2 separate regions of the Homo sapiens genome follow, and region 1 is linked to region 2. A link means that fine-mapping ties the variant in region 2 to the expression of a gene that starts in the linked region. Tissue or cell type: whole blood. Region 2 holds a variant in brackets; the other region holds the start of a gene. All regions are shown on one strand. Distances are between the middles of the regions.

Region 1 (5,132 bases), 36 kb after region 2:
CAAACCACTGCTCAATGAAATAAAAGAGGACACAAATAAATGGAAGATCATTCTATGCTTACGGATAGGAAGAATCAGTATTGTGAATATGGCCATACTGCCCAAGGTAATTTATAGATTCAATGCCATCCCCATCAAGCTACCAATGACTTTCTTCACAGAATTGGAAAAAACTACTTTAAAGTTCATATGGAACCAAAAAAGGTCCCACATTGCCAAGACAAACCTAAGTCAAAAGAACAAAGCTGGAGGCATCACGCTACCTGACTTCAAACTATACTCCAAGGCAACAGCAACCAAAACAACATGGTACTGGTACCAAAACAGAGATATAGACCAATGGAACAGAACAGAGCCCCCGGAAATAATACCACATATCTACAACCATCTGATCTTTGACAAATCTGACAAAAACGAGAAATGGGGAAAGGATTCCCTATTTAATAAATGGTGCTGGGAAAACTGGCTAGCCATATATAGAAAGCTGAAACTGGATCCCTTCCTTACACCTTATAAAAAATTAATTCAAGATGGATTAAAAACTTAAATGTTAGATCTAAAACCATAAAAACCCTAGAAGAAAACCTAGGCAATACCATTCAGGCAACAGGCATGGGAAGGACTTCATGACTAAAACACCAATAACAATGGCAACAAAAGCCAAAATTGACCAATGGGATCTAACTAAATTAAAGAGCTTCTGCACAGCAAAAGAAACTACCATCAGAGTGAACAGACAACCTACAGAATGGGAGAAAATTTTTACAATCTACCCATCTGACAAACGGCTAATATCCAGAATCTACAAAGAACTTACATAAATTTACAAGAAAAAATCAACCAACCCCATCAAAAAATGGGCAAAGGATATGAACAGACACTTCTCAAAAGAAAACATTTATGCAGGCAACAGACACATGAAAAAATGCTCATCATCACTGGCCATCAGAGAAATGCAAATCTAAACCACAATGAGATACCATCTCACACCAGTTAGAATGACAGTCATTAAAAAGTCAGGAAAAAACAGGTGCTGGAGAGGATGTGGAGAAATAGGAACACTTTTACACTGTTGGTGGGACTCTAAACTAGTTCAACCATTGTGGAAGACAGTGTGGCGATTCCTCGAGGGACTAGAACTAGAATTTGACCCAGCCATCTCATTACTGGGTATATACCCAAAGGATTATAAATCACGCTGCTATAAAGACACATGCACACATATGTTTATTGTGGCACTATTCACAATAGCAAAGACTCGTGAACCATCCCAAATGTCTATCAATGATAGACTGGATTAAGAATATATGGCACATATGCACCATGGAATAGTATGCAGCCATAAAAAAGGATGAGTTCATGTCCTTTGTAGGGACATGGATGAAGCTGGAAACCATCATTCTGAGCAAACTATTGCAAGGACAGAAAACCAAACACCGCATGTTCTCACTCATAGGTTGGAATTGAACAATGAGAATATTTGGACACAGGGAGGGGAACACCACACACCGGGGCCTGTCGTGGGGTGGGGGGAGGGGGGAGGGATAGCATTAGGAGATATACCTAATGTAAATGACAAGTTAACGGGTGCAGCACACCAACATGGCACATGTATACATATGTAACAAACCTGTACATTGTGAACTTAAAGTATAATAATAATAAAAAAAGGTAAAAAAAAAAAAGTAGACACATACTATAATCACCTTGAAAAAAAAAGAAAGTCTTTCAAAGAGATAAAAAATTCCATATACTCCACTTCCTACAATTCTGGCAGTTTCCAAATACTTTTACTTATGTGAAAATGCTATCATATCCAAGAGTGCCTTTAGAGCTAAGCTAACAGTAGGCTACTGATCTTTAGCACATTGCTTTTTCTGTTGTGTTATTCAGGGGGCTTTCTCACATTTATGTTTCCATTTTTCACATTTCACAACTTTCTTTGGAGCACAGATATTTCAGGAAGATTTTAGAGCCTTTGAATAGCATTATGGACTTTTTTGCATTAATTTTTACTTTTACAAAATTGTGCTAAATATTATTTCTGTTAATTAGTGAGTTTTGTTGGGGGCCCCTTAAATTGGAACCCCAGGCTATGCCTCATTTGCTTCACTCTGGTCCTGGCCCTGAGAGAGGAACACAAAAGGGATGGTTAGAAAAACAAGAACAAATGAGCCTCCCAGAATTTTCTCAAACAACAGGCCAGTTAATTAAGGAAAGTAGATATTACATAGCTAGGTATAATGAACATGCAGTCAGTGGATTGTCTCAGTAATTTATGGAGATAACCACCAACAAAAAGTGTATGTGGGTGGGGACAAAAGAGAGACAACAAAGTACTGCAGGCAGAAAGCTTCCTTTTGCTGATTTTGCCTCACAGAATTGAGAGTTTGTTCTTACACACAAGTTTAATGCCACCTTCCTCTGTCTGCCATGGACCAACAAGCAATATATGCTGAGTTAAACTTACCCACAGACTCAGGCCCAGAAAGTTCTTCACCTTCATCTCTTCCTCGGGGTAAGTGGCTTTAATTTTCCTTTCGGCATTTGTATGTCTTCCAGAATTAGATCTTCCTGTTACATTTATGGCTTTAAATCATTGCTTTAAAGATGAGCAGTAGTTTTATATTAATGTTTAACGGGTGTTGCATGGCTTGCCTGTAGATAATCACAACTTTGGGAAAAAAAATTTAAACCTCATACATTTATTTTTTTCAATCAAGTTAGCATGAAAAGCAAACATCACTTGTCTTACTGAGCCTTGGTTAAAAGACTCTGAACACTTTAGGCTACCCTGGGCACACTGCCTATTGGTTACCCCTGCTCTACAGGGATGGAAAGAAGGAAGAAAGAAAGAAAGAAAGAAAAGAAAGAAAGAAAGAAAGAAAGAAAGAAAGAAAGAAAGAAAGAAAGAAAGGAAGAAAGAAAGAAAGAAAGGAAAGAAAGAGAAAGAAAAGAAGAAAGAAAGAAAGGAGAGAAAGAAAAAGAAAGAGAGAGAAAGGAAAGGAAAGAAAGAAAAAGAGAAGGAGGAAGGAAGGAAGGATGGAAGGAAGGAAGGAAAAATATTTTACATGTATGAACTAAGGAATATTTAAGACACATTGCAAACTTGCTGTAATAACAACCTACGTTATTCCAAATTCCTCTACAAAATATCAATACTATGATTAAGTCCCAGTGCATTTTCATCCATAATATTCCTTTCAGAATACAACGTGTAGGCCAGTTGCAGTGGCTCATGCCTGTAATCCCAACACTTTGGTAGGCTAAGGTGATTTGCTTGAGTCCAGGAGTTTAAGGCCAGCCTGGGCAATGTGGCAAAACCTCATCTCTACAAACAATACAAAAAAATAGCCAAGTGTGGGGCACGTGCCTGTGGTCCTAGCTACTCGGGAGGCTGAGGTGAGAGGATTGCTTGAGCCCAAGAGATCAAGGCTGCAGTGAGCTGTAATTGTGCCACTGTACTCCAGCCTGGGTGACACAGCAAGACTATCTCAAAAAAAAAAAAAAAATATATATATATATATATATATATATACTTTTTATACATATATTTTATATATTTTATATATATATATATACTTTTTATACATATATTTTATATATTTTATATATATATATATAAAGTGTAGGCTTAATGAGTAACATACTTCACTCTCTCAAGAGAGGGGAACACTTTCTGGAAAAAAAATCATATTCAAGATCAAAGATTTGAATATCATTACTACCTGATAGTTTCTAGTTTGAAAAGTATCACAGCTTAGAAAGAGACAAGCCACAAAAATACTCGAGCATATCAGTAACGAACCTACTTACCATTTGTTGAAACTGGCACTTTCCTGTGTCTCTGAAGAGTTAGCATTCTGAGTGAAAGAAGCGGGGAACACCAATGTGAGGTAACACATGATGGATAGCATGGCCTGTGGATGGATGGGAAGAAACTAGAAACTGAGGCAGAAAATCAGCATGAAATTATTATGACACATTATTATTTTCTGATATCTAACTGAATTTACTATCATTGATAATATTACAATTGTTTACCAATCTGATATTCATTCCATGTCATGCCAAGCATTTGACTTGTGCTGTTTTAAGACTGTTTAAGTTTTAAACTATTGAATTCTCAAAGTTTTAAGTCAAGAAGAAAGTCTTAGAGCCGTCAATTAAGTTTCAGTATAATTTTCACATAAGAGTAGAGGAAATCAGAGGGTTCTAATAACTATAGGGAGGATTTGGTTGAGTAACATTTTTTTTTAAAGAAAAGAGTAAGTCTTTCTTTTCCTCTATTCATATCTAGCAAAAGGTGGAAAGTGGGCTTTTGTCAGAAAATGAATATAGAGGTAGTGAGACTCTTCCCAAATGTTGCTATGATCCCAAACCAATGGATGCAGAAATTTTTTCTACTTGGATTGTAATAATTATCCTATAAAATGTCATTCTGAGAGTAAACCTGAAGAAAAAATAAGAGTAGAATAAAGCCAGAGCAAAATATGTGACTATAGAACACTGGTCTGATATTGAATGACAGTAAAACCACTATTGGTCTCTGGCTAAACTGCTGAGGCTGTGGTCACTCTGTAGCAAGCACGGTGATTGTGTCTAAGGCAGTCAACAAAACCAGAAGGAGAGATGTGAGTGATAACCGATCTTGCTTATGGCCAAATGGCCAAGGGTTTGGTCTGTTAGAAAAGTGGATAAGGTGTTTGCAAAAATGCCCCTAGAGTTTATTCATTCATTAAAAAATAAGCTCCTACTCTGCACCAGGCATGCTGTGAATACAGCAGTGAACAAAATAGAGAAAATTATTTTCCTTCATAGAGTTTATAGTAAAATAGAGGCACACTTGTGGAAGACAGTATGGCGATTCCTTAAGGATCTAGAGCTAGAAATACCATTTGACCCAGTGATCCCACTACTGGGTATATACTCAAAGGATAATAAATCATGCTGCTATAAAGACACATGCACACGTATGTTTATTGCGGCAGCATTCACAATAGCAAAGACTTGGAACCAACCCAAATGTCCATCATTGATAGACTGGATTGAGAAAATGTGGCACATATACACCATGGAATACTGTGCAGCCATAAAAAAGGATGATTTCATGTCCTTTGTAGGGACATGGA
Region 2 (5,221 bases):
TTATTTGGCTTTTGAATAAAATGATTACTTGCAAAGTCTGTTGCAGTTAGAAATGCTTACTGAAGCTGACTCAAATCTTTCCTCCTTATTATTACCTAGTTAAATAAACAAATGGCAAACATTTGTGTGGAGAGTCATATATTACGTGAAGTGCTAGATGGTGGCATGTTAATAAAAGGCCCTACTAGTAAAAAATGTAGAGTTTTTAAAATTGAAGTGAAAAAACCTTTATTGGATTTTTTAGATCTGCCTATAGTAACATCCCCAGTTCCCCTGCTAACATCATCATCATAGCAGTTACAATATATCTATCTCTTATTTTGCCTTAGAGTGGTATTACTCAAAGTGTATATCATGGATCAGTGGCAGTTCATGAACTATGTGTTATCAGTCCATGGTGAGGTAAACACAGACTTTATTAGTCTGTTTTCATGCTGCTGATAAAGACACACCCAAGACTGGGCAATTTACAGATAAAGAGGTTTAATTGGACTTACAGTTCCATGTGGCTGGGGAAGCCTCACAATCATGGCAGAAGGCAAGGAGGAGCAAGTCATGTCTTACATGGATGGCAGCAAGCAGAGAGAGCTTGTGCAGGAAAATTTCCCCTTATAATAAACATTAAACCTCATGAGACTTACTCACTATCACAAGAACAGCTCGGGAAAGACCTGCCCCATGATGCAATTACCTCTCACTGGGTGCCTCCCACAACACATGGGAATTCAAGATGAGATTTGGGTGGTGACACAGCCAAACCATATCACAGACATTGAGAGTAAGCATTTAAAAACTCATATAGCAATTTGACATTTCCTTAATAACCAAGTGGGTGAATCCACCTTGTTGGACAGGAAATAGACAAGTGTGGTACCATCAGACTCAGTGGTGGGTCACTTCTGACATGAGTGTGTATGAGTCACAACATTAAGAAGTTTGGGATCTTAAGGTTATTTTCTCAACTACAATCCAACTGTGCATAAAAATCTGAAATTCACATATTACCTTCTTGCAAAATAATAACAAATAATTGTGAAATTTACAGGATAACTTGTTGGAAATAGTTATTGATGATTTACTGAAAATAAAATTTGAAAACACGGCATCATTTGCATTATTTGGGGTAAGATTTAAAAACAAATAACCTTAACTTGCAGAAATTATCTTAAAATTTCTTTCTCTGTTCTCTTGAATATAGATCTTTGAAATCAGTTCTACTTTTAATGGTAAATAGAAATACTTGAGGTACTCTTTCTCTTCAGTGAACAGAATCTTGTCATAAATGCAACCTCGTAAGCTCATTTCTCACATTACAACTTTACATATTAATATAAATAAAATTTATTCACAGTGTGGGTGTAGGCATTTAATATAGGAAATACAATTTCATACTTAAACGGGATTAGTTACAGTTTTTTTTTCCTTTCTTCCATTTTGTTTCTTAATTGACAAATAGTAACTACATATTCATAAAGTATGTAGTGATGTTTTGATAGATATGATGTACAACAATTCTATTAGGGTAATTAGCATATCTATCATCTCAAACATTTATCATTTCTTTATGTTGGAAACATTTAATATCCTCTTTCTAGCTTTCTGAAACAATATAACATATTATTGTTAACTGTAGTAATCCTACAGTGCTATGGAATGCTAGGAGGTATTCCACTTATCTCGTGCACAGTGGAGAAACAGAAAATGGTTTTTTTTCTATCACATCATCAGGCTGAACATTTTCTAAACTTTTATCCTCTGTTTCCCTTTTAAAACTGAATATTTTAACAGCACCCAAGTCACCTCTTAACTGCTTCAATGCTTAGAAGTTTCTTCTGCCAGATACCCTAAATCATCTCCCTCAAGTTTGAAGTTCCACAAATCTGTAGGCTGCAATAAGTCTACATGGTTTCCAGGAGGTGAAGCCTGAACCCAACTGGCAGCACACAAAGCCTAGAATATCCTCTTTCCTGGTACCACCCTGTGCCACTGGACTCACGGTGTGAGATGAGTGACTGCACAACCACATTCAACAAAGGAGGAGGTACAACTGGGCAGAGACAACATCACAACTAGAGAAGATTACAAAATCATTCAAGAGGATGCTGAGATAAAGTACAGTTACCTACTCTCCATTATTCTTTGCTGAGAAAAGTGAGGGTATGGCATCAGCAGAAAATTATGTTTATTCTTAAATAAATCCCAATAGGATGGGGTTGATAGTCAGGCAGTAGAATGAGATAAAAATCTGCATTCATTAAAAATCTTTGTGCATAAGGAAAAGAACAGCAATGGCAAAGGAGAAAAGAGAGCCTTCTCTTTTTCTTAAATAAGACAGGAAACTGCATTCCTTTCCTTGCTGTAGTGGCAGCAGACTTACTGGTTTTCATAAAACATAATTTCTGCAATGTGGTCTGTTGATAAGGCTGCTCCATGATGGGAGGACAGACATGAGGCCAAGTGTTCATGACAGAACTAGGTCTTCTCTCAAAGCCTCTAATGTGTGCTATTTCTCATGAGGAACCTGACACTATATGACACTTCAGTTAAAGCTTCTGAAATATTGCAATGGCATAATTGACAGGTTTTTTGGTGTGGTGACTTTCTTGTACATGTAAACTCTTTGAGAAAAGTTGGGGATAAAAGGACAGGGGAGCATTTGGTTTAGAGCCACAATGTTCCAGACGCCAGCCACGGATCCCTCTGCCCTGTGTCACTACACGTTCTTTTCTGAGAAACATTCAATTGCTGAGTGTTACACACCGTGGTTGAAGAAAATGATCCACTCACCACCATCCGCTCTCTCTCATCCTCTGTGTGAAGCTCCCAATAGCAGAGGCTGAAGACAGAAAGGTCGTCTCTGTTTCCTTGCACCAGGTACATTACTTGGTGACCTGGTGAATGGCATGGGCAAGGTAGCCCACGTTGCCGGAGGTGACCCCTGCCACAGAAATGCGGCCGTCCTTTGTCATATAGATGGAGAACTCCTTGGTTAGCCACTCCACCTGTTCAGGCTTTAGCCCTGTGAAACAAAACATGCCAGTTTGGGCAGTGCTATGTGGCCAGTTGTGGGTGGAACCCTTCTTCTTGAGGTTGGAGACAAGCTGAGTCCGCATGCTAATGATGTGGTCGGCCATGCCTTTCACTTCTTGCAACCATTGTTTTCATGAATCTGGGGTGTTCAGAATGGTAGAAGCAATCTGGGCCCCATTGTGGGGACGGTTGGCATAC[G/A]TGGAATGGATCAAGATCTTCAACTGTGACTCTACCCTTTTGGTTTCATCGCATCTTTGCATACTACAGTGAAGGCTCCTACACGCTCACAATATAAGCCCATGTTCTTGGCATATGATTGGCAGAGACAAACATTAATGCCCTGTTCAAAGAAGTGGTGCACAGCCCGGGCATCCTTATCACCATCACCACTGGTAAAGCCTTGGTAGGCTATGTCAAAGAAGGCAAAGAGACTCTTCTTCTTCACCATTGTTGCTGTATCCTTCCACTGTTCCAGACCTGGGTCCACTCCCGTGGGATTGTGGGTGCAGGCATGCAGAAGAACAACATTTTGCTCTGGTATTTTTGAAAGGCCCTCCACAGCGCCTGTGAAGTCAAAATCGCAAGTCTTGGGGTCATAAAGCCGATAACCTTGTAGCTGCATGCCAGTGTCCCTGAAGATGGGCGTGTGATTTCCCCAGCTTGGTTTGGGCAGAAAGACATCTCAGCTGAACTTAAAAAATCTTTGCAGAAAGCTGGCTCCAATCCTTAAGGCTCCAGTTCCAGAAATGGTCTGCACAATGACAAACCGGCCACTTTTCAAGACTTCGCTGTTCTCACCAAGGGCTAGTTCTGCAGATGCCTTGCAAAATTCAGCCAGTCCCCCAGTGGACAGGTATTCCTTGTCCAAACTTTTTGTGGCAATCTGGGCCTCTGCCTTGGGGACGCTAGGCAGCACGTCCAAGGCTTTCCGTTATCATCCCGGTAGGCACCAACTCCCAGATTCATCTTTTTGCTATTGGTGTCCCTCTTAAAGTCTTCAATGACTGCCAGGATGATATCTGGAGGTCCCATTTCCACATGGGTCCATCAGGAGCTGGCTCTGGCAGAGGCCGCAGCTGCGAGGCCCAGGTGGAAGGTGGCAGCGATCCCAGAGAGGACGCAGCCAGAGTGCAGCAGGGCCACGGTGGACAGTAGGAGGGCAGTGGGCAGCTGCAGGACTGAGCAGAGGGCTCTCTGTAGTGTTTTAATTGCGAGAGACGATTTGTGAGGCTGATCTGAAGCTGTAGCCAATCTGGTCTGCTTTGCATGTCTTTCTGTATGGTCCATAGCAAATTTGCTGAGGACCTCCATCTTGTTTAACATCCTTGGGAGCAAGACCTGTAACCACTTGGCAAGGTTTTGTGTAGCCTCTGTGTAGCTTGGATTCAATCCTGGCTTAGGGAATGAGTCTTACCTGGTTTGATATCTGCATGACCTTTTGCTATTTGTTGATTCCATTTCTCTCCATGAACTGCCTTGGATTTTCCTTTCTCTGAGCCTTTAGTAAAGTTTGAAAGCCAGAAATATTGGCCACTTGGTGTGGCTAAATTCAGATAATAAGGGAGTTAAGAGGAATTTCTTAAGGAGTGCTCAGCTTAACTAAAAGTGGATATCCAAGTTAGAGTCATATTTAAAAGGTTTCCCTTTTCTTGGACCTTGTTTTGCTGGGAAAAGGTTTTTCTTGGTCAACTGAATTATTTTTTCTTCATTTTGCTTTGCCACTTTTTTAATGCACGCACAAGAGAGGAGAGACCTCTTTTTTTTCTCATGGACTCCAGAAATTAAAAGCACCCAGAGGCCAATAATCCAATTAGGAGATTGGCAAATGAAAGATCTTATGGGGACCGGGTTATCTTCTACCTGTCTGTGTAATTCTATATGTGTTGTGTGTGTGATGTTTACATAAAAAAAAGAGCTCTAATTAATTTTGCCTAAAGGAAGACAAGCACTTGGATCAAATATTTTATGAAAGAGAAGATAAAAAGCTGTGGTACCTTTCAGTTCACGTGACTTTAATCTTGGAGAAATAAAAACAGCCTTAAAGATTATTGGTAAAAAGCAGATGTCATAAAAATGTAAATAGGTGGACTAAATTATGCAGGTCAGATACTAGGTTGGCAAAATATTTTAAGGTCATAAACTGCTTTTTTGGTTTTTGAGAACTTTTCAATTTGCTGGCTTCACAATTGGC

The links. PIP is the estimated chance that this variant, and not a neighbour inherited with it, causes the effect.
Region 1: it holds the start of KLRB1, and the variant in region 2 is fine-mapped to the expression of KLRB1 in whole blood (TOPMed, PIP 0.91).

The regions. Positions count from the first base shown.
Region 1 is chr12:9,605,141-9,610,272 of GRCh38, reverse strand. KLRB1 (killer cell lectin like receptor B1) reads left to right here and starts at 2,357. Exons shown (of 6, transcript NM_002258.3): 1 at 2,357-2,518. The coding sequence starts at 2,434.
Region 2 is chr12:9,640,670-9,645,890 of GRCh38, reverse strand. It overlaps the pseudogene LOC374443 and the pseudogene GOT2P3. Among named protein-coding and RNA genes, the nearest start is that of CLEC2D, 26 kb to the left of the region's middle. The variant G/A (reference allele first, on the strand shown) is at 3,229.